Regions from separate parts of the Homo sapiens genome. Here all the other regions are linked to region 1. Evidence: fine-mapped expression QTL. A gene starts in region 1. Each other region holds a variant in brackets. All regions are shown on one strand. Distances are between the middles of the regions. Region 1 holds the start of NAGLU (N-acetyl-alpha-glucosaminidase). Region 2 holds the start of CAVIN1 (caveolae associated protein 1). Region 3 has its middle 21 kb from the start of TUBG1. Region 4 overlaps EZH1 (enhancer of zeste 1 polycomb repressive complex 2 subunit). Region 5 overlaps LOC102725238 (a long non-coding RNA gene). Region 6 overlaps LOC102725238 (a long non-coding RNA gene).

What was found. PIP is the estimated chance that this variant, and not a neighbour inherited with it, causes the effect.
Region 2: its variant is the best candidate, but not a certain one, in a credible set for the expression of NAGLU in whole blood (INTERVAL, PIP 0.56).
Region 3: its variant is the best candidate, but not a certain one, in a credible set for the expression of NAGLU in T cells (TOPMed, PIP 0.62).
Region 4: its variant is the best candidate, but not a certain one, in a credible set for the expression of NAGLU in esophagus mucosa (GTEx, PIP 0.80).
Region 5: its variant is the best candidate, but not a certain one, in a credible set for the expression of NAGLU in whole blood (INTERVAL, PIP 0.89).
Region 6: its variant is the best candidate, but not a certain one, in a credible set for the expression of NAGLU in whole blood (TOPMed, PIP 0.66).

Annotation. Positions count from the first base shown.
Region 1 is chr17:42,533,290-42,538,158 of GRCh38, forward strand. It overlaps NAGLU (N-acetyl-alpha-glucosaminidase), which reads left to right and starts at 2,952. Exons shown (of 6, transcript NM_000263.4): 1 at 2,952-3,366; 2 at 4,109-4,256. The coding sequence starts at 2,984. It also overlaps the pseudogene PTP4A2P1. RefSeq lists enhancers at 2,665-2,744, 3,258-3,995 and silencers at 2,855-3,264, 3,385-3,454.
Region 2 is chr17:42,423,094-42,427,962 of GRCh38, forward strand. It overlaps CAVIN1 (caveolae associated protein 1), which reads right to left and starts at 163. Exons shown (of 2, transcript NM_012232.6): 1 at 1-163. The coding sequence starts at 4. LOC102725238 (a long non-coding RNA gene) reads left to right here and starts at 95. Exons shown (of 4, transcript XR_007065758.1): 1 at 95-179; 2 at 1,798-1,969. The variant A/C (reference allele first, on the strand shown) is at 2,469.
Region 3 is chr17:42,628,050-42,632,918 of GRCh38, forward strand. No RefSeq gene overlaps it. Among named protein-coding and RNA genes, the nearest start is that of TUBG1, 21 kb to the left of the region's middle. The variant C/T (reference allele first, on the strand shown) is at 2,322.
Region 4 is chr17:42,725,061-42,729,929 of GRCh38, forward strand. It overlaps EZH1 (enhancer of zeste 1 polycomb repressive complex 2 subunit), which reads right to left. Exons shown (of 21, transcript NM_001991.5): 3 at 3,765-3,892; 4 at 2,575-2,703. The coding sequence starts at 3,881. Among named protein-coding and RNA genes, the nearest start is that of EZH1, 18 kb to the right of the region's middle. The variant T/A (reference allele first, on the strand shown) is at 2,357.
Region 5 is chr17:42,437,976-42,442,844 of GRCh38, forward strand. All of the region lies in intron 3 of LOC102725238 (a long non-coding RNA gene), which reads left to right. It also overlaps the pseudogene RNU7-97P. Among named protein-coding and RNA genes, the nearest start is that of CAVIN1, 17 kb to the left of the region's middle. The variant C/A (reference allele first, on the strand shown) is at 2,197.
Region 6 is chr17:42,446,130-42,450,998 of GRCh38, forward strand. LOC102725238 (a long non-coding RNA gene) reads left to right here. Exons shown (of 4, transcript XR_007065758.1): 4 at 2,372-4,128. Among named protein-coding and RNA genes, the nearest start is that of ATP6V0A1, 10 kb to the right of the region's middle. The variant A/C (reference allele first, on the strand shown) is at 2,172.

The sequences.
Region 1 (4,869 bases):
ATCCATCTGCAGAAATTGAGGCCCAAATTGAATTTGGATTCAAGTGGATTCTAAATACTTTGCTTATCTTGAAGAGAGAAGCTTCATAAGGAATAAACAAGTTGAATAGAGAAAACACTGATTGATAATAGGCATTTTCATGGTCTTTTTAATGTTTTCTGTTGTTAAACATTTCAAGATTTATTGATTTTTTTTTTCACTTTCCCCATCACACTCACAGGCACGCTCACACTTTTTATTTGCCGTAATGAACCGTCTAGCCCCTGTGGAGATCTCCTATGAGAACATGTGTTTTCTGATAACTCACAACCCTACCAATGCTACTCTCAACAAGTTCACAGAGGAACTTAAGAAGTATGGAGTGACGACTTCGGTTTGAGTTTGTGATGCTACATATGATAAAGCTCCAGTTGAAAAAGAAGGAATCCACGTTCTAGATTGGCCATTTGATGATGGAGCTCCATCCCCTAATCAGATAGTAGATGATTGGTTAAACCTGTTAAACACCAAATTTCGTGAAGAGCCAGGTTGCTGTGTTGCAGTGCATTGCGTTGTGGAATTGGGAAGGGCACCTGTGCTGGTTGCACTTGCTTTGATTGAATGTGGAATGAAGTACGTAGATGCAGTTCAGTTTATAAGACAAAAAAGAAGGGGAGTGTTAAATTCCAAACAGCTGCTTTACTTAAGATGCGATTACGCTTCAGAGATACCAATGGGCATTGCTGTGTTCAGCAGAAAGAAATGTAAATGAAGGCTGACTTGATTGTGGCATTTAGAGGGAACTCCTGGTACCTGGAAATGTGAATCTGGACTCTTACCTGTGTCATCAAAGTAGTGATGGATTCAATACTCCTCAACCACTCTCCTAATGATCAGAACAAAAGCAAACAAGAAATCTCTCTATAAAATGAATAAAATGTTTAAGAAAAAAAAAGAGTTCGAGACCAGCCTGGACAACATGGTGAAATCCCATCCCTACAAAGGTTAACTGGGCTTGGTGGCACGTGCCTGTAATCCCAGCTACTCAGGAGACTGAGACAGGAGAATGGCTTGAACCTGGGTGGCTGAGGTTCCCGTGAGCTGAGATTAAAAAAAAAAATCATACTTCCCTAGTATCTAAAGTTGATATCTGATTCCAGGCCTCTTTCAACTTTTTTTGTTTGTTTGTTTGTTTTTTTGATATGGAGTCTCGCTCTGTCATCCAGGCTGGAATGCAAATGGCACGATCTTGGCTCACTGCAACTTCCACCTCCAGCGTTCAAGCGATTCTCCTGCCTCAGCTTCCCAAGTAGCTGGGACTACAGGCGTGTGCCACCAAGCCTGGCTAACTTTTTTTCTTTTTTTTTTTTTTGAGAGGGAGTCTTGCTCTGTCCCCCAGGCTGGAGTGCAGTGGTGTGATCTTGGCTCACTGCAACCTCCGCCTCTCCGGTTCACGCCATTCTCCTGCCTTAGCCTCCCGAGTAGCTGGGAGTACAGGCGCTCGCCAACACGCCCGGCTAATTTTTTGTATTTTTAGTAGAGATGGAGTTTCACCGTGTTAGCCAGGAGGGTCTTGATCTCCTGACCTCGTATCCGCCCGTCTTGGCCTCCCAAAGTGCTGGGATTACAGGCGTGAGCCACCGCGCCCAGCACCTGGCTAACTTTTGTATTTTTAGTACAGACGGGGTTTCACTGTATGTTGGCCAGGCTGGTCTCAAACCCCTGACTTGAGGTGATCTGCAAGCCTCAGCCTCCCAGAGTGCTGGGATTACAGGCGTAAGCCACCGCTCCTGGCCTAAGGTTGGCTATTTTTATGGTTATTTCTTGATTATATGATAAACAAGGGGTGGGTTAGTAATGAATTTTTCAGAAAAGGGGTGGGGATCCCCCCCAACTGAAGGTTCCTCCACTGTTTAGACCATATAGGGTAACTTCTGGACGTTGCCATGGCATTTGTAAACTGCCTGGCGCTGCTAGGAGTGTCTTTAGCATACTAATGCATTATAATTAGCGTATAATGAGCAGTGAGGACGATCAGAGGTCACCTTCCTGTCTTGGTTTTGGCAGGTTTTGACCAGTTTCTTTGCTGCATTCTGTTTTATCAGCGGGGTCTTGTGACCTTTTATCTTGTGCTGACCTCCTGTCTCATCCTGTGACGAAGGCCTAACCTCCTGGGAATTCAGCCCAGCAGGTCTCTGCCTCATTTTACCCAGCCCCTGTTCAAGATGGAGTCGCTCTGGTTGGAAACTTCTGACAAAATGACAGCTCCTGTTATGTTGCTGCTGCTGCCGCCAATGGACAGCCTTTAACGTGCCCGCCAGCCCTGCTCCACCGCCGGCCTGGGCTCACATGGCCCCATCCCTCCTCGAACCTCCTAGCCTGTTAGTTACTCAAATCTGCAAGCTCTCTGCCTTCTCAGGGCCTTCAATAAATGCATTTCTTCTGTCTGGAAGGCTCTTCCTTTCCCTCTTCTAGCCAATTCCTATTCATCCCTGAGTTTCAGATTAAAAGTCACTTCCTTTGGAAACCTTACTTCGCTACTTCGCTACTTACTGCACTACTTCGCAGCATCACAACTATGATGGAAATCCTTACTTACGTTAAATATCTGGTTTCTAGGTCACCTCCCTGACGGGGACGGTAGGGACCGTCTTCTCGTTCATCAGTAGGGAAGTAGCTATGGCAGTGCCTGATACAAAATAAACTCCAAATGTGTATTTATTAGATGGTTGGATGGAAGTTATTTGCGTGTGAAAGCGCGTTTTACCCGAAGGCGCTCTGTGAGGGCCAGCGGGTCCCCTTCGGCCCTGGAGCCGGGGTCACACGCTCCCCACCGCGTGCGGTCACGAGACGCCCCCAAGGGAGTATCCTGGTACCCGGAAGCCGCGACTCCTGGCCCTGAGCCCGGGCTTAGCCTTCGGGTCCACGTGGCCGGAGGCCGGCAGCTGATTGGACGCGGGCCGCCCCACCCCCTGGCCGTCGCGGGACCCGCAGGACTGAGACCATGGAGGCGGTGGCGGTGGCCGCGGCGGTGGGGGTCCTTCTCCTGGCCGGGGCCGGGGGCGCGGCAGGCGACGAGGCCCGGGAGGCGGCGGCCGTGCGGGCGCTCGTGGCCCGGCTGCTGGGGCCAGGCCCCGCGGCCGACTTCTCCGTGTCGGTGGAGCGCGCTCTGGCTGCCAAGCCGGGCTTGGACACCTACAGCCTGGGCGGCGGCGGCGCGGCGCGCGTGCGGGTGCGCGGCTCCACGGGCGTGGCGGCCGCCGCGGGGCTGCACCGCTACCTGCGCGACTTCTGTGGCTGCCACGTGGCCTGGTCCGGCTCTCAGCTGCGCCTGCCGCGGCCACTGCCAGCCGTGCCGGGGGAGCTGACCGAGGCCACGCCCAACAGGTACCGCCCCGAAGCTTCCCCGCGTCCGCCCGAGGCGCTTACCCCCTCCCGGAGCCGCTGCCACCCAAATCGGGAGGCTGAGCGGGGAGCGCTGGCCGGAAGGCCCAGCTGCGCCGCCTCCAGCAGCTGTGTGGCCTTGAGCCAGCCACTCTGCCTTTCAGAGCCTCGGCTGGCCCACCTGAAAAACGGAAAGAAGACGCCTACCGTGCAGTGTTATTGTGAGGATTTGCACGATGATGGGCATAGAATTTGTGGTGCACAATTGGTGATGAGTGAATTTTCTTGCCTTCCTCCCCCACCTTCTCTTTGAACCTGCGGACTGAGGAAGGACGCCTCCATCCCCCACCCTACAGGCCTGTGTTCCAGCGCCTGCCACACTATGGAGTGATGTGTTCACACAGCTGTCCTCCCCTGCCCATCTGTTAGACTGTGGGGGCAGGGATTCCCCGTTCCAGGAAAACACCGTGCAGAGGAGGGGCTCTGGCAGTGTGGCATGAAAGTGGAATATGCCACCCAAATACCCGCCAGGCTAGAGGGCCCTGGGAGAGTGCAGGGGACGAGTGCCTCAGAAGCCCAGCCCCGGTACCTGGTCTCAGCTCCACCTGGGGTGGGTCCCAGTGTGCAGCAGAAGGGCCGAGTTTGGAGCCCCTCCCCTCTCCTCTAGGTGGGGGATGGGGGATTTGTTCCAGGGCCGTGGACCCTCCAGGGTGGGATGCGCCCCTGCTCATGACACTGCCCGCAGGTACCGCTATTACCAGAATGTGTGCACGCAAAGCTACTCTTTCGTGTGGTGGGACTGGGCCCGCTGGGAGCGAGAGATAGACTGGATGGCGCTGAATGGCATCAACCTGGCACTGGCCTGGAGCGGCCAGGAGGCCATCTGGCAGCGGGTGCGTGCCCACTGTCCCTTCCCCACCCTCCTCTATGGCGGGAGCCACCGTAGGTGTTTTCACCCGCCCCCCAGCATGGGCGCAGTGTCTCTCTCTAGAAGTGCTTTCAGCGTGCACAGTGGCTTGGGCCTCCTAAAAACTGAGGCTTCCGGCCGGGCGCGGTGGCTCACGCCTGTCATCCCAGCACTTCGGGAGGCCTAGGCGGGCGGATCAGGAGTTCAGGAGATCGAGACCATCCTGGCCAACATTGTGAAACCCCGTCTCTACTAAAATACAAAGAAATAGCAACCTGGGCAACAGAGCGAGACTCTGTCTAAAAAAAAAAAAAAAAAAAACTGAGGCTTCCAGTTTGAGGAGTGGGGCTCCTTCCCCCATCTCCCCTATGCAGCCAATCACCTGGTCCCTTGGATCCAACTCATGGGCAGCTCTAGATCTGCCTCCCTGGAAGCTTCTGTGCTGCAATGGCTGCTCCAGGCTCTGCTTAAGCTCTTCACACAGTTGCCCTGCCCTTCCATCTGGCACTCTTGCTCCATGAAGCCTTCTAAGGCCTTCCTGTTGGGGGAAAGCCCCTTTGTGCCCCATCTCCTCACCCATGCGACAAAGGCAACACAGT
Region 2 (4,869 bases), 110 kb before region 1:
CCATGGCTACCCGGAGCCGTGCGGGACCGGCCGGGTGGGGCTGGAGCTGGAGCGGGAGACCCGGAGAGAAGCAGGAGCGGAAGGGAGGAGAGCTAGCGGGCGAGAGCGGAGAGCAGAGGAAACTCGAGCCACGTCCGTGCGCACCGGGACAGCGGCCAGAACTGCTGGGCGGGGGATCGGTGAGCTCCCCAGCTCCCGGGCCAAACTCCGGAGTCTGATCGCTGATTGGCTGGCCCCACCCCAGAAAGGGAGGGACCGGGGCAGAAGGGGAGATCGACGAGGCGGGGCGGCGGAGGGGGACCCAAGAGCCGAGCGCCCCACCCTTCCCGGGATGGTTGGAATAGTTGGAGCGGGAGACTAGGGCCTCCGCTGGCGGCGGGAGCGGGACGGGCGGAGGAATGCGAGCTGAGGAACGGAATCAGGTTCTAAGAGTGTTGCTCTCTGTTTCCCTCTCACTTGAATTGCTCATCCGAAAATCCTCAAGATCTGGGAGCCGGGTGGACCAGGAGATTCTGAAATTATAGGCAAAATCTTGTATTTGCCTTTACCTAGATTTTGAGCACAAAAGGACCCTTGCCCTTTACAATATTTTCTAAGAGGCCTCTCGGATTTCCTCATCACCAACCCCAACCAGGTTACTAACTCAGGGGTAAGCTTAGGGGGTTGTTTGTGGGGGGCGGGGGGAGAAAGAGAGAACGTATTTGGGGTCACGGTGGTGGTGAAGGGCTGCGAAGCTCCTCTAAGTTCTTTTTAGAATTGCCCTAACAGAGTAGAATTAAGATGGGCAATCAAACGGAAAATAAAGCCCACCTCCCAACCCCCCTTTCTGAGACAGGGTGTCACTCTGTCACCCAGGCTGGAGTGCAGCGGTCTGATCACAGTTCACTGCAGCCTCGACCTCTTGGGCTCAGGCAATCCTCCCACTTCAGCCTCCTGAGTAGATGAGACTATAGGCGCTTGCCACCACGCCCAGCTAATTTCAATTTTTATTTTTTTCAATTTTTATTTTTTTAAGAGACGGGGTGTACACTATTTTGACCAGGCTGGTCTCGAACTCCTGAGCTCAAGTGATCTGCTGGTTTCAGCCTCTCAAAGTGCTGGGAGCCACCGCGCCTGGTGTAAAGCCCTTTTTAAAAGCCCACCTCTCTTAGGCCAGGCGCGGTGGCTCATGCCTGTAATCCCAGCACTTTGGGAGGCCCAGGCGGGTGGATCACGAGGTCAGGAGTTCAAGACCAGCCTGGCCCAAGATGGTGAAACCCCGTCTCTGTTACAAATACAAAAATTAGGCCAGGCGCAGTGGCTCATTTTGGGAGGCGGAGGTGGGTGGATCACCTGAGGTCGGGAGTTCGACCTCAGCCTGACCAACATGGAGAAACCCCATCTCTACTAAAAATACAAAATTAGCCAGGCGTGGTGGCGCATGCCTGTAATCCCAGCTATTCGGGAGGCTGAGGCAGGAGAATCACTTGAACCCGGGGGGCAGAGGTTGCAATGAGCTGAGATTCGCGCCATTGCACTCCAGCCTGAGTGGAATTCTACAGAGTAGAATTCCTCTTTTTTCCAAAAGCTTTTTCAATCCTTAGTAGAAGGAATTTAAATTACTTTAATACATTTCTCCTAAATTCTAAAGTAAGTTGGTAATCTGCCAGTTGGTAATCCACTGTCTGAGTGCAGACAGAGTGAGACTCTGTCTCAAAAAAACAAAAAAAACAAAAACAAAAGCAACCCACAAACCCACGTCTCACCTCTCTCTAAAACTCACCTTTCCCTGTGTTCCCCCTCCCACCGCCCCCTCAGAGGCAGCTGACACCAATCTCAGTGAGCAGGATCTAGGAGTCCATTTCTCTTTCAAGATTCCAGGGACTAACAGTAAGCCATCGGAGAGACCATCAAATCCCACCCCCTCATTTGACAGACAGGAAAAGGAAAGCCTGCAGAAGACAGGTGGCTTGCCAGAGATCACTCGCAGGTTAGTGTTGGCATTGGCACTTGAACCCAGGTCTGGACTCCTGCTTTCATGCTCTTTCCACCTTCTGCTCTAAGCCTTCCACTGGGGCAGGGAGACAGGCACCCACAGCCACTCCCCAACTCCCATGTGCTGTTTCAGAAGATTAACCAAAGCATATTTTCATCCATGCTGGGTACAAGGGAGCAGGCAATTCTGAGCAGGCCCAAGGAGGGTCCTTAGTGCAGAAAGTCCAGAAATAGGGAGGCTGCCCATCCTCCCCCATTTTGCTGTCTAGCACAGCACTGGTGCTGTGAGTGTCTGAAGTGGCGCCAGCTCCCTTTCCCACAGAAAAGCGGCAACCCTTTTCCCTCCTTAGGAAACCACACTTGGGTTTCCCCAGCTGGCTGGATGATGGTCCTGGCAAAAGGTCACTTCTAGTCTGGTATCCATTATCATTAGGAAGAGTGAAAAACTGGTCTATGGGGACCCAGGGCCTCCTCAACCCAGACAGAGAACCCAC[A/C]AACTCAGAAAGGAGACCGACAGTGCAGGGACTGGGTTAGTGCCCTAACAACATTGTAGGGTTTTTTAAGGGTTTACAACACCATATTTGTTATCCGAAATTCTCATAGAAAATGGAGCCATCAACTAGGGCTGTTTATCAGGTTATCCTGAAGTACTGTTTCTGCTAGAAAGGCAAGATACGTGGTTACTGGTAACCTCTTTTTTTCCTTTTTTTTTTTTTTTTTCTTGAGATGGAGTCTCACTCTTTTGCCAGGCTGGAGTGTAGTGGTGCAGTCTTGGCTCACTGCACCCTCCACTTCCTGGGTTCAAGCGATTCTTCTGCCTCAGCCTCCCGAGTACCTGGGACTACAGGCACGCACCACCACACCCAGATAATTTTTTTTTTGTATTTTTAGTAGACACGGGGTTTCGCCATGTTGGGCAGGATGGTCTCAATCTCTTGAGCTCGTGATCCACCCACCTTGGCCTCCCAAAGTGCTGGGATTACAGGTGTGAGCCACTGTGCCCCGCCTTTTTTTTTTTTTTTTTAAGACAGAGTCTCACTCTGTTGACCCTGCAGCCTCGAACTCCCGGGTTCAGGTGATCCTCCCACCTCAGCCTCCCAAATAGCTGTGACTATAAGCGCACACCATCACACCCAGCTAATTTTTGTATTTTTTGTAGAAATGGGGTTTCACCGTGTTGCCCACGCTGGTCTCAAACACCTAGGCTCAAGGGATCCACCTGCCTTGGCCTCCCAAAATGCTAGGAATACAGGCGTGAGCCACTTCGGCTTTGTGTTTTTTCCAACTTTTTTTTTTTTTTTGAGACAAGGTCTTGCTCTGTCATGCAGGCTGAGTGCAGTGGCACAATCACAGCTCACTGCAGTCTTGACCTCCTGGACTCAAGTGATCCTCCCACCTCACCCTCTCAAGTAGCTTGGACTACAGGTGTGCCACCACACCGGGTACCCTAACACTTCAATAACTGTTTTCTCACAAACAAATGGCTTTCTCATTTGAGGCTCAAGTAGAATTAAGCTAGTATATAAGATCATATATACACATATAACTGCTAGAACTGGCAGATTACCAACTTACTTTAGAATTTAGGAGAAATGTATTAAAGTAATTTAAATTCCTTCTACTAAGGATTGAAAAAGCTTTTGGAAAAAAGAGGAGTGACAGTAGAGAACCTTATAGGACCTTCATTTCTTAAGTGTCCCATAAGATCCTTAGATGATGATGATTATTATTATTATCATTTTTTTTTTTGAGATGGAGTCTCTCTCTGTCACCCAGGCTAGAGTGCAATGGCACAATCTCGGCTCACTGCAACCTCCACCTCCCGGGTTCAAGCGATTCTCCTGCCTCAGCCTCCCAAGTAGCTGGGATTACAGGTGTGTGCCCCCATGCCCAGCTAATTTTTTTTTTTTTTTGAGACGGAGTCTTGCTCTGTTGCCCAGGCTGGAGTGCAATGGCATGATCTCAGCTCACTGCACCTTCCGCCTCCTGGGTTCAAGCGATTCTCCTGCCTCAGCCTCCCAAGTAGCTGGGACTACAGGTGCCTGCCACCACGCCTGGCTAATGTTTTGTATTTTTAGTAGAGACGGGGTTTCACCATGTTAGCCAGCATGGTCTCGATCTTCTGACCTCATGATCCGCCTGCCTCGGCCTCCCAAAGTGCTGGGATTACAGGCGTGAGCCACTGTGCCTGGCCTCGCCCAGCTAATTTTTTGTACTTTTAGTAGAGACGGGGTTTCACCAGGTTGGTCAGCCTGGTCTCGAACTCCTGACATCAGGTGATCCACCCACCTCGGCCTCCCAAGGTGCTGGGATTACAGGCATGAGCCACAGCACCCGGCCTCTAAAAAATTTTATCTCTATCCCAGCAACTAGTTTCTTTTCCAGGAGACATCAATTATTACTATATTCTCTTTTTTTTTTTTAGGTGGAGTTTTGCTCTTGTTTCCCAGGCTAGAGTATAGTGGCACCATCTCGGCTCACTGCAACCTCTGCCTCCCGGGTTCAAGCAATTCTCATGCCTCAGCCTCCCAAGTAGCTGAGATTACAGGCATGTGCCACTACGCCTGGCTAATTTTTGTATTTTTAGTAGAGAAGGAGTTTTACCATGTTGGCGAGGCTGGTCTTGAACTCCTGACCTCAGATGATTCACCCACCTCGGCCTCCCAAAGTGCTGGGATTACAGGTGTGAGCCACCATGCCAAGCCTATTATTACTATTCTCTTGCGGAATCTTCTATAGACTATTTCTGCATATATGATCATACATATATATATTTCAGCACTTTCCTGTTTTCAGTTATTAATATGTTTTATGGATAGTTCCATATCAGTACATGTAGAACTGCCTTGTTTTCCAATGTATACGTCTACTATATTTGTTTAACCAGTTCCCTAT
Region 3 (4,869 bases), 95 kb after region 1:
ACACACACACACACACACACACACACACACACACACACTCCAGCTGTCAGTAGAAGAGCCAGAGTCAGCACCTTGAGGCCTCCTGGAGCAGAGATTTTCTGGAAAGTCTTCAGGGAAGACTCTGCTGAGCTCAGTGACAATTGCCACCCGGCCACTGGCCAGATTACATTTCCTGGGTCACTTTGACCTTCTCAAAGGCCGCAGCCACCATTGAGCTGGTATTCGCTCATGCTGACATCCTACTCCAACCCTCTCTGCCTCATCAAATACAGCCTTGATTTTGGTACAAGCCTAAATGCTCATCATATGCACACATATGCTGGGGTTACCACCAGCCTTCCCCAAACTATGCCAAAAATGATTCTATACATCTCACAAAGATTCATCATGAACACAATTGAAGGCCTATGGATCCTCGGGATAGGGAAAGATCTCCCTGCCCTTCCATAGAATTGGGACTTCTTGTGTTCTAGCCTTTCCCAGCTATGGGAAAAACAACCAAGGTGGCTTCTCTTGTCTACAAACATGGACCCACCATTCCTAAGGTACAGCATTAGCAAGAAAAACAAAACTAAGGAATTAAAAAAATAAAACTCTGAAGATAGACGAAAGAGTCAACTCTTTTTTTTTTTTTTTTTTTTTTTGAGATGGAGTCTTGCTGTATCACCCAGGCTGGAGTGCAGTGGCGTGATCTCTGCTCACTGTAACCTCCGCCTCCCAGGTTTGAGTGATTTTCCTGCCTCAGCCTCCCTAGTAGCTGGGATTATAGATGTGCATCACCATGCCCAGCTATTTTTGTATTTTTAGTAGATGAAGTTTCACCATGTTGGCCAGGCTGGTCATGAACTCCTGACCTCAGGTGATCCACCTGCCTCGGCCTCACAAACTGCTGGGATTACAGGCATGAGCCACTGTGCCCAGCCGACAGAGTCAACTTTTGATGCTGTGAATTGTCACGTGAATTTCTCCTTTGTTTTTTGAGACAAGGTCTCACTCTGTCATCCAGGCTGGAAGGCAGTAGCAGGATCATGGCTCACTGCAGCCTCAACCTCCCAGACTCAAGCAATCCTCCTACCTTAGCCTCCCAAGTAACTGGGACTACAGGTGCACACCACCACACCTGTCTAATTTTTTTATTTTTTGTAGAGACAGGGTCTCACTATGTTACCCAAACTGGTCTGAAACTCCTGGGTTCAAGCAATTCTCCTTCCTTGGCCTCCCAAAGTGCTGGAATTACAAGTGTGAGCCACTGTGCCCAGCCATTAATTTTAATTCTGTCAATAACCTGTGATCAAAATTTTATTCCAAGATCCAGCTCTGTTCTGGCTTCTTACTATGTGTTTCCCAGCAATGTAATGTAATTAAAATGTTATCATAACCTGTCTCTCAGAATGTTGTTACTACATTTGTGATCTTGGGCAGGTCACTTCCTGTCCCTGGGCCTCAGTTTCATCATTCTGTTGCTCAACAAATATGTATTGAGTAGCTAGTAAGTTCCAGGCATTGTGCTAAGTGCTGAAGACAACAAAGATGAGCAAGATATAGTATGGCTGAAGAATTGCTCATTCCATTGTTTATGTGTTAATGTAAATAACTCATCATGTACCTGTGTGATTAGGGCTATAATGAAGGTTGGACAAGGTACGAGAGAAAAACTGGAAGGGGAACACCTGTGTCTGATGGGGGTTAGGGGTTTGTAAAATAAGGGGTTCGGCTTCTAGAGGAGTCTGTTATTCTAAGATTGTGATACATTCAAAAGGACACAGAGTCCATTTAGATATTCTGTTTCAGGGAAATGTGTACAATACCAGCCCTCTGCTAGTGCAGATAAGGAGTTTACCATTGGCACCAATACCTCTTTTTCAAGTTGAGTAGAAGCCAGATTCCTATTATCAGTCGTTTGCATTACTCAATTCTAACAATCACTTGGGAACATAAATAATACTTGGTAAAATTAATTCTTTTCCAATACAAATGAAAGAAACATATCACATATACTTGTGCCATACATACGCTTAACCAACAAACACATCATCTGGGGAAGAAAAAGCAAACCCAGACACATATAAAATGAAATCATCGTAAGGTTTCATTTTATTTATTTATTATTATTATTTTTTGAGACAGAGTTTCGTTCTTGTTGTCCAGGCTGGAGTGCAGTGGTGCGATCTCAGCTCATTGCAACCTCCACCTCCCAGGTTCAAGTGATTCTCCTGTCTCAGCCTCCCGAGTAGTTGGGATTACAGGCATGCGCCACCATGCTCAGCTAATTTTGTATTTATAGTAGAGACAGGGTTTCACCATGTTGGTCAGGCTGGTCT[C/T]GAACTCCTGACCTCCGGTGATCCACCTGCCTTGGCCTCCCAAAGTACTGGGATTACAGGTGTGAGCCACTGCGCTTGGCCTAAGGTTTCCTTTTAAAATACAATTTTTTTAATAACATAGAGACGGGGTTTCACCGTGGTGCCCAGGCTGGTCTTGAACTCCTAGATTCAAGCAGTTCACCTACTTTGGCCTCCCAAAATGCTGGGATTACAGGCATAAGCCACTGTGCCTGGCCCATCATAAGGTTTTCTTTCAAACAAAATCAGAAGTAAAATGTTATTGATTTGTTACTGCCAGGAACTCAACATGCACCCTGCGATGCTGTTGAACTAAAGTCTGCTAACTGTGGCTTACAAATAATTGAAGCACCAGCTAATACTATTTAAATCCTTAACTAGTGAAATAAAGAGTTATGAATTCCTAAAAGGCCAATATTTATTTTTTTGTAGTGACAGGGTCTTGCTGTGTTGCCCAGTCTGGTCTAGAACTCCTGGCCTCAAGTGTTCCTCCTGCCTTGGCCTCACAAATATTGGGATTACAGCCATGAGCCACCATGCCCGGCCCTCATTCCATTAGGCTTATATAAATATAATGATTCGTGTTAAACATTTTGTGTTTAGGATGGGCACAGTGGCTCACACCTACAATCCCAGTACTTTGGGAAGCTGAGGCAGGAGGATTACTTGACCCCAGTAGTTGGAGACCAACTGGACAACATAGCAAGACCCTGTCTCTAAAAAAAAAAAAAATACAAAAATTAGCCACATGGCCCAGCGTGGTGGCTCACACCTGTAATCCCAGCACTTTGGGAGGCTGAGGCAGGCAGATCACTTGAGGTCAGGAGTTCAAGACAAGCCTGGCCAACATGGTGAAATGCGGTCTCTACTAAAAATACAAAAATTAGCTGGGCATGTTGGTGCATGCCTGTAATCCCAGCTACTTGGGAGGGTGAGGCAGGAGAATCGCTTGAACCTGGAAGGTGGAGGTTGCAGCACTACACTCCAGCCTGGGCAACAGAGTGAGACTCTGTCCAAAAAAAAAAAAAAAAAAATTAGCCAGGTATGGTGGCATATGCCTGTAGTCCCAGCTACTTGGGAGGCTGAGGTGGGAGGATCGCTTGAGTCTAGGAGGTCAAGGCTGCAGTGAGTTATAATTGCACCATAGCATTCCAGCTGAGACCCTGTTCCTCCATCAGAAAAAAAAGGAAAGAAAGATTTTTAAAAATTTAAAAATTGTGCTTAAGAAGACATCTCAATGGTTGCACAATCTTAATGTATTTAATACTACTTAACTGTATGTTTAAAAATAGTTAAAATCTGTAATCCCAGTGCTTTGAGAGGCTGAGGCAGAAGGATTACTTGAGCCCAGGAGTTCCAGACCAGCCTGGAAAACATGGCAAAAACCCATATCTGGAGAAAACAAAAATACAAAACAAAAAATACAAAACAAAACAACCCATGGCGAAAACAAAAAAATACAAAAATTAGCCAGGTATGGTGGCACACACCTGTAGTCCTAGCTACTTGGGAGGCTGAGGCAGGAGGATTGTCTGAGTCCAGGAGGTTGAGGCTACAGTGAGTCATGATTGTGCCACTACACTCCAGCCTGGGCAACAGAGCAAGACCCTGTCTCAAAATAAATAAATAAATAAATAGTTTAAAATCGACTAGCTTGGGCAACATGGAAAAACTCTGTTTCTACAAAAAAATAAAACACACACACACACACACACACACACACACACACACGAAATTAACAGGTCGTGGTGGCACACACCTATAATTCCAGCTAACCAGGAGGCTGAGGTGGGAGGATCACCTGAGCCCAAGAAATCAAGGTTCCTATGATCATGCTACTACTGCACTTCAGCCTGGTCAGCAGAGAGAGAGATCGTGTCTCAAAAAAAAAAAAAAAGTTAAAAAGGTTAAATAGTAAATTTTATGTTATATGTACTTTATAAGTTTTTTTAAAAAATAAACAATTTTTAATTAAAAAATGTAACTGATGGCCAGGCATGGTGGCTCACGCCTATAATCTCAGCACTTTGGGAGGCCGAGGCAGGCGGATCATGAGTCAGGAGATCAAGACCATCCTGGCTCACACTGTGAAACCCCGTCTCTACTAAAAACACAAAAAATTAGCTGGGCGTGGTGGCAGGCGCCTGTAGTCCCAGCTACTTGGGAGGCTGAGACAGGAGAATCCCTTGAACCTGGGAGACAGAGGTTGCAGTGAGCAGAGATCGCGCCACTGCACTCCAGCCTGGGTGACAGAGCAAGACTCTGTCTAAAAAAAAAAAAATGCAACTGACTTATTTATATGGACTATATATCCCATAACCTTTCTAAACTCCCTTATTAGTTCTAAACTCCCATATTAGCTTTTTTTTTTTTTTGGTACATGCCTTAGGATTTTCTATGTACAATTATGTCTTCTGTAAATAATAGTTTTATTTCTTCCTTTCAAAAATAAAAATAGAAAGACATCTCTACATTAACAAAGGCACCAGAGTATACATTTTCTTTTTCTGTATCCTCAATAGCTTCTAGA
Region 4 (4,869 bases), 190 kb after region 1:
GGAGGCTGAGGCAGGAGAATTGCTTGAACCTGGGAGGTGGAGGTTGCAGTGAGCCAAGATCACGCCACTGCACTCCAGCCTGGCGACATAGCGATACTCCGTCTCAAAAAAAACAAAAACAAAATTTTAAAAACAACTTAATAAATTCAGAGTTTTGTAACATCATCTCCTAAAAGGAATCCCTAGACTGCAAACTTGTGGAAAGTAGAAACTCTTTTTTTTTTTTTGAGACAGGATCTCACTCTGTTGCCCAGGCTGAGTGCAGTTGTGCAATCACAGCTCACTGCAGCCTCTGCCTCCCAGGCTAAAGCCATCCTCCAACCTCAGCCTCCCGAGAAGCTGGGATTACAGGCATGTGCTACTACATCCAGTTAAACAGCTAATTTTTCTTTTTTTTTTTTGTAGAGACAGGGTCTCGCTATATTGCCCACGCTGGTCTCCAACTCCTGGACTCAAGCAATCATCCTGCCTTAGCCTCCCAAAGTGCTGGGATTACATGTGTGAGCCACTATGCCCAGCCAAAAGAAGGGACTCTTATTCACCTTTGTGTCCTCTATAGAGTTCAGCACAGTACTTCCCATACTCAGCTGATGTTTACCTCAGCTCAAACTGTTGGTCTACCTGGGTTATACACAACAGTAAAGAGCCTCTGAAAGTCCTAAAAGATGAGGAAGTTTTCTGAAGACCTAAACTTTAAGACAGTGGACATCAACTTAGCTGCATAGGTGATAGGGATAGTACATGGAGAAGCAAAGTGGTATAGAAATTATAGTAACATTCTGCTTCAGGAAAGATATTTGCTCTCAATACACTATCTGCTTTTCGTTTTTTGTTTTGAGACAGGGTCTCACTCTGTCGCCCAGGCTGGAGTGCAGTTGCACGATCTTGGCTCATTGCAACCTCCGCCTCCCAGGTTCAAGCAATTCTCCTGCCTCAGCCTCCTGAGTAGCTGGGATTATAGGTGCACGCCACCACGCTCGGCCAATTTTTGTATTTTTAGTAGAGACAGGGTTTCACCATGTTGGCCAGGCTGGTCTTGAACTCCTGACCTCAGGTGATCCACCTGTCACAGCCTCTAAAAGTGCTGGGATTACAGGCATGAGCCACTGCACCCAGCTTCTGCTTTTTTTTTTTTTTTTTAAGAGACAGTCTCTTTTTTTTTTTTTTTTTTGAGACGGAGTCTCGCTGTCGCCCAGGCTGGAGATCATAGCTCACTGCAGCCTTGAACTCTTGGGTTCAAGTGATTCTCCCACCTCAGCCTCCCGAGTAGCTGGGATTATAGGCATACACTACCATGCCTAGATAATATTTACTTTTTATATTTTAAAAATATTATCTATTTCCCAGGTGTTGGAGGTTACAGTAAGCTATGATCATGACACTGCACTCCAGTCTGGGTGACATAGTGAGATCTTGTCTCTAAATAATAATAATGATAATTTATTTTCATAAAGTTTCTTTTTTTTTGGAGATGGTGTTTTGCTCTTGTTGCCCAGGCTGAAGTACAATGGTGCCATCTCAGATCACTGCAACCTCCACCTCCCGGGTTCAAGCAATTCTCCTGCCTCAGCCTCCCTAGTAGCTGGGATTACAGAAGTGTGCCACCATGCCTGGCTAATTTTTTTGTACTATTAGTAGAGATGGGGTTTCACCATGTTGGCCAGCCTGGTCTCAAACTCTTGACCTCAGGTGATCCACCCACCTCGGCCTCCCAAAGTGCTGGGATTACAGGTGTGAGCCACCGCGTCCAGCCAAAGTTTCTTAACTAGAAAATTCTTTTATTTATTTATTATTTATTATTTTTTTTGAGACACAGTCTCACTCTTTCACCCAGGCTGGAGTGCAGTGGTGTGATCTTGGCTCACTGCAACTTCTGCCTCCTAGGTTCAAGAGGTTCTCAGGCCTCAGCCTCCCAAGTAGCTGGGATTATAGGTGTGCACCATCACACGCAGCTAACTTTTGTATTTTTAGTAGAGACAGTGTTTCGCTATGTTGGCCAGGCTGGTCTCAAACTCCTGGCCTCAAGTGATCCATCTGCCTCAGCCTCCCGAAGTGCTGAGATTACAGGTGTGAGCCACTGCGTCCAGCCCCCGTAATTATTCTTGAAGCTGCAGATTTACTATCTTAATTATTCAAAGTTGACTAAAATAGCTGTATCTATTAACCTTAACCTTATTTATTTATTTCCTTTCTTTCCTTTTTCTTTTTTGGACATAAGGTCTTGTCTGTCAACCCAGACTGGAGTGTTGTGGTGAAATCATAGTTTATTTCAGCCTTGAACTTCTGGGCTCAAGAAATCCTTCCACCTCAGCCTCACAAGTAGCTAGGACTACACCACCATGTCTGGCTACTTTTT[T/A]AAAAAATTTTTTAGAGACACAGTCTATGTTGCCCAGGCTGGTCTCAAACTCCTCACCTCAAGCGATTTTCCCACCTCAGCCTCCCAAATAGCTGGGAATACTTGTGTGAGCCACCATACCTTGTCTTACTTATTCACTTTCTAAAAAGTCACAAATATAGGAAAAAGCTTTAAGCCCAAGGAAGAGAGGAAGACTGAGCTTAAACTCCCAAAAGTACCTTTTTGAGAAAAGGGTGTCCACTCACAGGCTTCATTGACTGAACAGGTTGGACACGAAGCTTCTTCCATTCTTCATTGAGGATCTGGGTTTTTTCTTGAACCTTTGCAAAATTTGCCACATACAAAGCCTAGCAAAGCCATGGAAAAGATTAAGATATATTGTTATTTTATTAATTAATTAATAATTTATTTTTTTGAGATGGAGTCTTGCTCTGTTGTCACCCAGGCTGGAGTGTAGTAGCGCGATCTCAGCTCACCACAACCTCCGCCTCCCGGGTTCAAGCGATTCTCCTACCTCGGCCTCCCAAGTAGCTGGGATTACAGGCACAGACCACCACACCTGGCTAATTTTTGTATTTTTGGTAGAGACAGGGTTTCACTATGTTGGCCAGGCTGGTTTGAAACTCCTGGCCTCAAGTGATCTGCCTGCCTCAGCCTCCCAAAGTGCTGGAATTACAGGCATGAGCCACCGTGCCTGGCCTTTTTTTTTTTTTTTGAGATGGAGTCTTGCTCTGTCACCCAGGCTGGAGTGCAGTGGTGCCATCTCGGCTCACTGCAACCTCTATCTCCTGGGTTCAAGCAATTCTCCTGCCTCAGCCTCCCAAGTAGCCGGGATTACAGGCATATGACACCACGCCCGGCTAATTTTTGTATTTTTAGTAGAGACGAGGTTTCACCAGGTAGGACAGGCTGGTCTCGAACTCCTGACCTCAGGTGATCCACCTGCCTTAGCCTCCCAAAGTGCTGGGATTACAGGTGTGAGCCACCGCACCTGGCCCTGTTACGATTTCAAAACAAAAGTTAAAAAGAAATTCCAACCCCTGGGCCAGGCGCGGTGGCTCACACCTGTAATCCCAGCACTTTGGGAGGCTGAGGCGGGCGGATCACGAGGTCAGGAGATCGAGACCATCCTGGCTAACATGGTGAAACCCCATCTCTACTAAAAATACAAGAAAATTAGCCGGGCGTGGTGGCAGGCGCCTGTAGTCCCAGCTAATCGGGAGGCTGAGGCAGGAGAATGGCGTGAACCTGCGAGGTGGAGCTTGCAGTAAGCTGAGATTACGCCACTGCACTCCAACCTGGGTGACAGAGTGAGACTCTGTCTCAAAAAAAAAAAAAAATTCCAACCCCTTTACACTGGGTCAGTATATTGAAATATATAAACTTTCACTTGGGAATTATTTTTTACCTTTGCACCCATATTTGCCTGAAGCCGTTTAAGTTGTCGAAGTCGCATGTATTCAGATTTCACTTTTCTTTTCCAGTAAGTGATACATTTGGAGGTAGGGGGATTTGGTATTTCCATCTTGCTGTAATCTAAGAGAGACAGAGATGAGAAATAGCATTTTATTGCCTGGAAATAAAGCATTCCTCAAATACAAAAAAAAAAAAAAGATCAATTATGCTTTCATTCCCATTAAATTTACTCATAAAAACACACATTTAAAGAACCCAAATGTGTGAGTTCAACAGAAAGTTTCAATTTAAAAAAAAGAGGCAGGGGCTCACACCTGTAAAACCAACACTTTAGGAAGCCGAGGTGAGAGCACTACTTGAGCCCAGTGATTTGAGACAACCTTGGGCAACATGGTGAAACCCCATCTCTACAGAAAATACAAAAGTTAGCCAGATGTGTTGGCCAGTGCCTGTAGTCCCAGCTACTCAGGAGGCTGATGTGGGAGGACTGCTTGAGCCCAGGAGGTCAAGGCTGCATTGAGCCGTGACCACGCCACTGCACTTCAGCCTGAGTGACAGAGTGAGACCTTGTCTCAAAAAACAAAACAAAACAAAAAAACAAAAAACAACAAGAAGTCCAGGCACGGTGGCTCACGCCTGTAATCCCAGCACTTTGGGAGGCCAAGGTGGGTGGATCTTCTGAGGTCAGTAGTTCAAGACTAGCCTGGCCAACATAGTGAAACCCCGTCTCTACTAAAAATACAAAAAAAAAAAAAAATTAGTCGGGCATGGTGGCTTGTGCCTGTAATCCCAGTTATGTGGGAAGCTGAGACACGAGAATTTCTTGAACCTGGGAGGTGGAAGTTGCAGTAAGCCGAGATCGCACCACTGCACTCCAGCCTGGGTGACACAGTGAGACTCCATCTCAAAAAAGAAAAAAAAAAAAGTCCGGGCATGGTGATTCATGCCTGTAATCCCAGCACTTTGGGAGGCCAAGGTGGGTGGATCACGAGGTCAGGAGTTCAAGACCAGCCTGGCCAAGATGCTGAAACCCCGTCTCTACTAAAAATACAAAAATTAGCTGGATGTGGTGGCACACGCCTATAATCCCAGCTACT
Region 5 (4,869 bases), 95 kb before region 1:
TTTTAAAACGTTTAAATTATTTTAAATTTACAGTGTTTTTTTTTTTTTTTTTTTTTGAGATGATGTCTTGCTCTGTCGCCCAGGCTGGAGTGCAGTGATCTTGGCTCACTGCAACCTCCACCTCCCGGGTTCAAGCAATTCTCCTGCCCCAGCCTCCTGAGTAGCTGGGATTACAGGTGCATGCTGCCACATCTGGCTAATTTTTTTGTATTTTAGTAGAGATGGGGTTTCACCATGTTGCCCAGGCTGGTCGTGAACTCCTGAGCTCAGGCAATCTGCCCGCCTCGGCCTCCCAAAGTGCTGGGATTACAGGCGTGAGCCACCGCTCCCGGCCCAGAATTGTTTTTTAAAGTACAAAAGTATTATTTCTTCATGAACTATTTGCAAGTAAGTTGACAACCTGACAAGTTTTATCACCCCCAAATACTTTAGTGTGTATTTTCTCCAAACACACATACATAACCACATAGACAACATACATTTTGTAACCATAATACAATAATCAGTATCAGGAAATTAATCCTCAGCAGCTGATAAAATTTCACCATTTATCCCAATAATGTCTTTTATGCATAAACGATCCAATTAGACGTAATGCTTAGCAGTTACTGCATCGTTTTAGTATCCTTCAGTCAGGGAAATATTCTTTCTTTGGCTTTCATAACCTTGACACTTTTGATGATCATAGGACAATTAATCTGCAAAATGTTGCTCAGTTTGGACTTGTCTGATGTTTCCTCATGATTAGATTTAGGAAATGTATTATCTTTAGCAGGAATAGCATGAAAGGGATGCTGTGCTCTCATTGCATCCTGTCAGGTGGTACACAATTTTGATTTCCCCATTACTAGTGATGTTAGCCTTGATCATTAGGTTAAGGTGGTATCTGCCAGACTTTTCCAGTGTCAGGTTATCTTTTTTTTTTTGAGATGGAGTCTCCCTTTGTTGCACAGGCTAAAGTGTAGAGGCACGATCTCGGCTCACTGCAACCTCCACATCCTAGTTTCAAGTGATTCTCCCACCTCAGTCTCCCAAGTATCTGGGATTATAGGCAAGCGCCACCACCCCTGGCCAAATATATATATATGTATATGGAGAGATAGAGAGAGAGAGAGAGAGATGAGGTTTTGCTATGTTGCTTAGGCTGGTCTAGAACCTCTGGGCTCAGGCCGGGTGCTGTGGCTCAAGCCTTTAATCCCAGCATTTTGGGAGGCTGAGGTGGGCAGATCACTTAAGGCCAGGAGAGACCAGCCTGGGCAACACTGGCGAAACCCCGTCTCTACTAAAAATACAAAAACTAGCCAAGTGTGGCAGTGCACACCTGCAGTCCCAGCTACTCAGGAGGCTGAGGCAACAGAATCACTTGAGCCTGGGAGGCAAAGGTTGTAGTAAGCCTAGATGGCGCCACTGCACTCCAGCCTGGGCAACAGAGGAGACTCCATGACAAAAATAAATAAATTAATTAAATTAAATTAAAACAATAAATAAAACCCCTGGGCCCAAGTGATCCTCCTGCCTCGGCCTCCCAAAGTGCTGGGATTACAGACGTGAACCACCTCACCTGGCCCTATTTATTTATTTATTTATTTGAGATGGAGTCTTGCTCTGTCCCCCAGGCTGGGCTGGAGTGCAGTGGCACAATCTCGGCTGACTGCAACCTCTGCCTCCCGGGTTCAAGCAATTCTCCTGCCTCAGCCTCCTGAGTAGCTGGGATTACAGGTGCACACCACCATGCCCAGTTAATTTTTGTATTTTTAGTAGGGACGGGGTTTCACCATGTTGGCCAGGCTGGTCTCAAACTCCTGACCTCAAGTGATCTGCCCTCCTTGGCCTCCCAAAGTGCTGGGATTACAGCCACTGTGCCCAGCCCTTATTTATTTTTTTGAGACAAAGTCTCACTCTGTCGCCCAGGCTGGAATGCTGTGCCATGAACATGGCTCACTGCAGCCTCAACCTCCTGGGCTCAGCAATCCTCCCACCTCAGCCTCCCAATTAGCTAGGACTACAAGTACATGCCACCTTACCTGACTAATTTTTTGTGTTGTTTTTTTTTTTGTAAAGACAGGATTTTTTTTTTATTTTTTTATTTTTTGTAGAGACAGGATCTCCCAGGCTGGTCTCAAATTCCTGGGTTCAAGCAATCCTCCGGCCTTGGCCTCCCCAGCTGTTGGGATTACAAGTGTCAGCCACTATGCC[C/A]GGACTATTTAAAAAAAATTTTTTTGGAGAGTTTTCTGGTAAAAACTGGAAAACCTGCTAGACGGATTCTAAAAGAGCTGTAATACTTGATTTCTTTGACATTTTAATTTTTAGTCTGAAATTTTCATTTCCAAATTTTCAATTTCTATGCACAAAATTCTTTTTTTTTCTTTTTTTTACAGTTTTTCCTCCTCTGCTGAGGTTTCTTTTTTTTCCTTTTTTTTTCTTTTTGAGATGGAGTCCCACTCTGTCGCCCAGGCTAGAGTGCAATGGCGTGATCTCGGCTCACTACAACCTCCACCTCCCCGGTTAAAGCAATTCTCCTGCCTCAGCCTCCCGAGTAGGTAGGATTACAGGCACCCGCCATCATGCCCGGCTAATTTTTGTATTTTTGTAGAGATGGAGTTTCACCATGTTTGCCAGGCTGGTCTTGAACTCCTGACCTCAGGTGATCTGCCCAAGTTGGCCTCCCAAAGTTCTGGGATTACAGGCAGGAGCCACTGCGCCCGAGTGGAAAGTTCTAAAATTAATTGTGGCTATGGTTGCACAATTCTGTGAGTATTAAAAATTGTTGACTTGTACGCTTTAAATGGGTGAGTCGTATGGTATATGAATTATATCTCAATAAAGCTATTACAACAAAAGATTCAGCAGTTTTCAAAATAGAACATATATATACTTTTTTTTCCTTTTCTTTTTTTTTCTTTTGCAGAAACAGGAACTATGTGTCCCAGGCTGGTCTCAAAATCTTGAGCTCAAGTGATCTTCCTGACCCAGCCTCCCAAATCGCTGGGATTACAGGTGTGAGCCACCATGCCTGGCCTGAAAATAGAATATTTGGAAATAAAATGATAAATTCAATAAATGAAATCCCCAAGATTGGAGGAGACCCTAAACTGAATGAAAACAGAAATTAACTCATGTTACAAATGAACAACAAAACTGTACTGAAGGAGAAGTGGTATGGGAATAGCAATTATGACATTATATTGTGCATATTATAGAATTAAGCAAATGACATATAAAAGAATGTGGAAGCTAGAGTTCTCACTGTAGGAAAAAAGTAGATTTAAATATGAATTAGGGAATACAAAGGAACCTTAGATGGGTGGAACTGGTGTTAGAGGCATCAGTATAAACCCATAACTTCATATACATTTGTAGAGATAGAGCTAGAGGTTTGGCCTCTGTGTGTTGAAGGCTTAGAAGCAATAACACAATGTAACAATGAGCAGGCTTGGTACCAAGATCTTGGTTTCTAAATATTATTCCTCACAACAAAGAAACAGCTTCTTAGAGAAATGGATGACTTCAGGGCTGGAACAAGGAAAGTATAAGCTAAGCTTAAAATATCCTATTGTGATAGAAATTAAGGAAGTCCCCTGCCACCCCCAACACCCCAGCAAAATGATGGGAATATGTCAAAAAACACAGGAGGAAGTTCCAATTATGGCTGAGTAATTCCCATCACACCAAGTCTTCTGTAAATAAGAATGATATACTCAGAGCAAAATATTAAAGAACAAACAAAAACTACCTGAAGGCATTAGCAAACAACAGGAGGAATATACTGCACAGAGGTGGATACCTGGAAGAGAAGAGGACTGAATGGGTTTCCTGTGTTTTTACAGCTTTTAGTCTAAGGGAAGTCCAAAGTCTGCAAAGTGAGTGGTTAAAACAAAGCTGGGGGTAGTGGTGTGCGCCTGTAGTCTCACCTACTCAGAAGGCTGACGTGTGAGGAAACCGTGAGCACAGGAGTTCAAGGCTGTAGAGCACTAAGATTGTGCCTGTGAATACCCACTGTATTCCAACCTAGGCAACACAGTAAGACCTCATCTCTTTTTTTTTTTTTTTTTTTTGAGACAGAGTTTCACTCTGTTGCTCAGGCTGGAGTACAGTGGCGTGATCTCAGCTCACAGCAACCTCTGCCTTCCGGGTTCAAGTGATTCTCCTGCCTCGGTCTCTTGAGTAGCTGGGACTACAGCTATTTTTAGTAGAGACAGGGTTTCACCATGTTGCCCGGGCTGGTCTTGAACTCCTGACCTCAGGTGATCAGCCCATTTCAGCCTTCCAAAGTGCTGGGATTACAGGCATGAACCACTGTGCTCGAGATCTTATCTCTTAAAACGACGACAACAACAACAAAAACAAAACAACAAAAACCCAAACCCTGCAGTCTTACTAGCTTGAATTGTTCAGGGCAACCCCAGCAGGTGGAAATAATGGGAGGAAATCCTATCAAAATAAGAGCCACAGAGAGGGAGGCTCAAATTCTGTGCATAAACTATAGTCCCAGCTACTCGGGAGTCCCAGTACCTGTAGTCCCAGCTACTTGGGAGGTTGAGGTGGGAGGCTCGCTTAAGCCCAGAAAGTCAAGGCTGTAGTGAGCTGTGATGATGCCACTGCACACCAGCCTGGGTGACAGAGTGAGACCCTGTCTCAAAAAAAAAAAAAAAAAAAAAAATTCAGAACTTTAAAAAATCACCCTGAAAAGAAACCCCATGCCCTTTTATTATTTTTTTCACTTTTTTGACTTTATTATTTTTTCTTTAAAACAATATTTATTCTTTTTTGTTGAGACTGGGTGTCACTATGTTGCCCAGGCTAGTCTTGAACTCCTGGGCTCAAGCCATCTTCCTGCCTCAGCCTCCCAAAATGCTGAGATTACAGGTG
Region 6 (4,869 bases), 87 kb before region 1:
ACTCCGTCTCAAAAAAAAAAAAAAAAAAAAAAAAAAAAAAAAAAAAAAAAAGAAAAAGAAAAAAAAAGAAGAAATAATGGCAGAAAATTCCTCAAATTTGACAAGAGACCTAGAACTACAAGTTCAAGAAGCTGAGAAAACCACAAACATGATAAACTCAAAGAAATCTATACCAGGACACGTAATAATCTAACTCCTGAAAACTAATAACAAAGAAAAAATCTTGACAGCAGTAAGAGAAAAACATCTTTCTCATAAGGGAAAAACAGATTGAACCACAATAGATTTCTCACCAGAAACTAAAAAAGGCCAGAAGAAAGTGGCACAACTTTTTTCAAATGCTAGAAGAAAAAAACTATCAAAGATGAAAGAGAAATCAACACATTTTCAGATGAAGAAAAACTAAGAGAATTTGTCATTTGTAGATCTACCCTTTAAAAAAGTGGCTAAAAGGGGGCCGGGTGCAGTGGCTCATGCCTGTAATCCCATCACTTTGGGAAACCGAGGCAGGCGGATCACTTGAGGCCAGGAGTTTGAGACCAGCCTGGCCAACGTGGCAAAACCTAGTCTCTACTAAAAATACAAAAATTAGCCAGGCATAGTGGCACATGCCTGTAGTCCCAGCTACTCTGGAGGCTGAGGCAGGAAAATCGGTTGAACCTGGGAGGTGGAGGTTGCAGTGAGCAGAGATCGCACCACTGCAATCCAGTCTTGGTGACAGGGCAAGACTCCATCTCAAAAAAAAAAAAAAAAAAGCTAAAGGAAGTTCTTGAAAAGAAAGGGAAATGATAAAAGAAGGGACCTTGGAACATCAAGGATGAAAAAAGAACGTGGAGTGGCCCACACTTGTAATCCCAGCACTTTGGAAGGCCGAGGCGGGCGGATCACGAGGTCAGGAGATCGAGACCACGGTGAAACCCCGTCTCTACTAAAAATATAAAAAATTAGCCGGGCGTGGTGGCGGGTGCCTGTAATCCCAGCTACTCAGAGAGGCTGAGGCAGGAGAATGGCGTGAACCCGGGAGGCGGAGCTTGCAGTGAGCTGAGATCGCACCACTGCACTCCAGCCTGGGTGACAGAGCGAGACTCTGTCTCAAAAAAAAAAAAAAAAGAAAGAAAAAAGAACGTGGAAAGCAAATATATGAGTAATTGCAATATACTTTCCTTCTTGTATTAGTCATCTAGGGCTTCCATAACAAAATACTGCAGACTGGGTAACTTAACCAACAGAATTTATTTTCTCACAGTTCTGGAGGCTGGAAGTCTAAGACCAAAGTGTTGGTAGGTTTGGTTTTTCCTGAGGCCTCTTTTCTTGGCCTGTAGATGGCCACCTTCTTGCTGTGTCCTCCCATGGCCTTTTGTCTGTGTGTGACCACTCCTGGTGCTTTTTCCTCTTCTGAAAAGGACACTGGGCCGGGCGTGGTGGCTCACCCCTGTAATCCCAGCACTTTGGGAGGCCAAGGCAGGCGGATCACCTGAGGTCGGGAGTTCGAGACAAGCCAACATGGAGAAACCCCATCTCTACCGAAAAAACAAAATTAGCCGGGCTAATCCAACAGGACTGGTGTCCTTTTTTGTGGGGGGGGACGGAGTCTTGCTCTGTTGCTCAGGATGGAGTGCAGTGGCACAATCTCAGCTCACTGCAACCTCCACCTCCCAGGTTCAAGTGATTCTCCTACTTTAGCCTCCCGAGTAGCTGAGATTACAGGCATGTGCCACCACACCCAGATAATTTTCTTTTTTTTTTTTTTAGTAGAGACGGGGGTTTCAACATGTTGGCCAAGCTGGTCTCAAACTCCTGACCTCAAGTGATCCTCCCACCTCGGCCTCCCAAAGTGCTGAGATTACAGGTGTGAGCCACCAAGCCCGGCTGGTGTCCTTTTTTTCTTCTTTTCTTTTTTTTTTTTTGAGACGGAGTTTCACTCTTGTTGCCCAGGCTGGAGTGCAATGGCGTAATCTCGGCTCACAGCAACCTCTGTGTCCCGGGTTCAAGCAATTCTCCTGCCTCACCTTCCCGAGTAGCTGGGATTACAGGTGTGTGCCACCACTCCTGGCTAATTTTTTTGTGTTTTTAGTGGAGACAGAGTTTTGCCATGTTGGTCAGGCTGGTCTCAAACTCCTGACCTCAAATGATCTGCCCATCGTGGCTTCCCAAAGTGCTGGGATTACAGG[A/C]GTGAGCCACCGTGCCCGGCCCTCATTTAATCTTAATTACATCTTTAAAGGCCCTGTCTCCAATGTACAGTCACAATAGAGGTTAGGGATTCAACATAGGAATTTGGGAAGACACAATTCAGTCTATAACACTTCTCCTCCCTCTCCCTCTCCCTCTCCCTCTACCCACGGTCTCACTCTCCCTCTCCCTCTCCCCACAGTCTCCCTCTCCCTCTCTTTCCACGGTCTCCCTCTGAGGCCGAGCCGAAGCTGGACTGTACTGCTGCCATCTCGGCTCACTGCAACCTCCCTGCCTGATTCTCCTGCCTCAGCCTGCCGAGTGCCTGGGATTGCAGGCGCGCGCCGCCACGCCTGACAGGTTTTCGTATTTTTTTGGTGGAGACGGGGTTTCGCTGTGTTGGCTGGGCTGGTCTCCAGCTCCTAACCGAGAGTGATCCGCCAGCCTCGGCCTCCCGAGGAGCCGGGATTGCAGACGGAGTCTCGTTCACTCAGTGCTCAATGGTGCCCTGGCTGGAGTGCAGTGGCGTGATCTCGGCTCGCTACAACCTCCACCTCCCAGCCGCCTGCCTTGGCCTCCCAAAGTGCCGAGATTGCAGCCTCTGCCCGGCCGCCAACCCGTCTGGGAAGTGAGGAGCGTCTCTGCCTGGCTGCCCATTGTCTGGGATGTGAGGAGCCCCTCTGCCTGGCTGCCCAGTCTGGAAAGTGAGGAGCTTCTCTGCCCGGCCGCCATCCCATCTAGGAAGTGAGGAGCACCTCTTCCTGGCCGCCATCCCATCTAGGAAGTGAGGAGCGTCTCTGCCCGGCTGCCCATCGTCTGAGATGTGGGGAGCACCTCTGCCCCGCCGCCCCGTCTGGGATGTGAGGAGCGCCTCTGCCCGGCCGTGACCCCGTCTGGGAGGTGAGGAGCGTCTCTGCCCAGCCGCCCCGTCTGAGAAGTGAGGAGCCCCTCCGCCCGGCAGCCGCCCCCTCTGAGAAGTGAGGAGCCCCCTCCACCCGGCAGCCACCCCGTCTGGGAAGTGAGGAGCGTCTCCGCCCGGCAGCCATCCCGTCTGGGAGGGAGGTGGGGGGTCAGCCCCCGCCCGGCCAGCCACCCCGTCCGGGAGGGAGGTGGGGGGTCAGACCCCACCCGGCCAGCCGCCCCATCCGGGAGGTGGGGGGCACCTCTGCCCAGCCGCCCCTACTGGGAAGTGAGGAGTCCCTCTGCCCGGCCACCACCCCGTCTGGGAGGTGTACCCAACAGCTCATTGAGAACGGGCCATGATGACAATGGCGGTTTTGTGGAATAGAAAAGGGGGAAAGGTGGGGAAAAGATTGAGAAATCGGATGGTTGCTGTGTCTGTGTAGAAAAAAGTAGACATGGGAGACTTTTCATTTTGTTCTGTACTAAGAAAAATTCTTCTGCCTTGGGATCCTGTTGATCTATGACCTTACCCCCAACCCTGTGCTCTCTGAAACATGTGCTGTGTCCACTCAGGGTTAAATGGATTAAGGGCGGTGCAAGATGTTTTTGTTAAACAGATGCTTGAAGGCAGCATGCTCATTAAGAGTCATCACCACTCCCTAATCTCAAGTACCCAGGGACACAAACACTGCGGAAGGCCGCAGGGTCCTCTGCCTAGGAAAACCAGAGACCTTTGTTCACTTGTTTATCTGCTGACCTTCCCTCCACTATTGTCCTATGACCCTGCCAAATCCCCCTCTGCAAGAAACACCCAAGAATGATCAATAAAAAAAAAACAAAACAACAACAACAAAAAAAACACTTCTCCTCTTGAGTTTTCTCAATTATGTTTGATGGTTGAAGCAGACTGTGTAACATTGTCCAATGTGGTTTGCAAAGTATGTTGAGGAAATATTTAAGACAATTATGTTGTAAATGGGAAAGTAAAAAGACTAAAATGGAGGTAAGAGTTTTATACTTCACTCAAGCTGATAAAAATATTGACATCAGTTGGCCAGGCACAGTGGCTCACGCCTGTAATCCCAGCACTTTGGGAGGCCGAGGCAGGTGGATCACCTGAGTTCAGGAGTTCAAGACCAGCCTGGTCAATATGGTGAAACCCTGTCTCTACTAAAAATACAAAAGTTAGCCGGGCATGGTGGCACATGCCTGCAATCCCAGCTACTCAGGAGACTGAGGCAGGAGAATCGCTTGAATCTGGGAAGCAGAGGTTGCAGTGAGCCAAGATTGCGCCACTGCACTCCAGTCTGGGCGATAGAGAGAGACTCCGTCTTAAAAAAAAAAAAAAAAAAGAAAGAAAAAAGAAAAAATATTGACATCAGTTGACTGTGATAATTTATATATGTATAATATGAAACCCATTACAACCACTTAAAAAATCTACACAAAGAGATACACTCGGGCCAGGCGCGGTGGCTCACGCCTGTAATCCCAGCACTTTGGGAGGCCGAGGCGGGCGGATCATGAGGTCAGGAGATTGAGACCATCCTGGCTAACACGGTGAAACCTCGTCTCTACTAAAAATACAAAAAAATTAGCCGGGCGTGGTGGCGGGCACCTGTAGTCCCAGCTACTCCGGAGGCTGAGGCAGGAGAATGGCGTGAACCTGGGAGGCGGAGCTTGCAGTGAGCTGAGATCGCGCCACTGCACTCCAGCCTGGGCGACAGAGCGAGACTCCGTCTCAAAAAAAAAAAAAAAAAAAGAGATGCACTCAAAAACACTATAGGAAAATTAAAA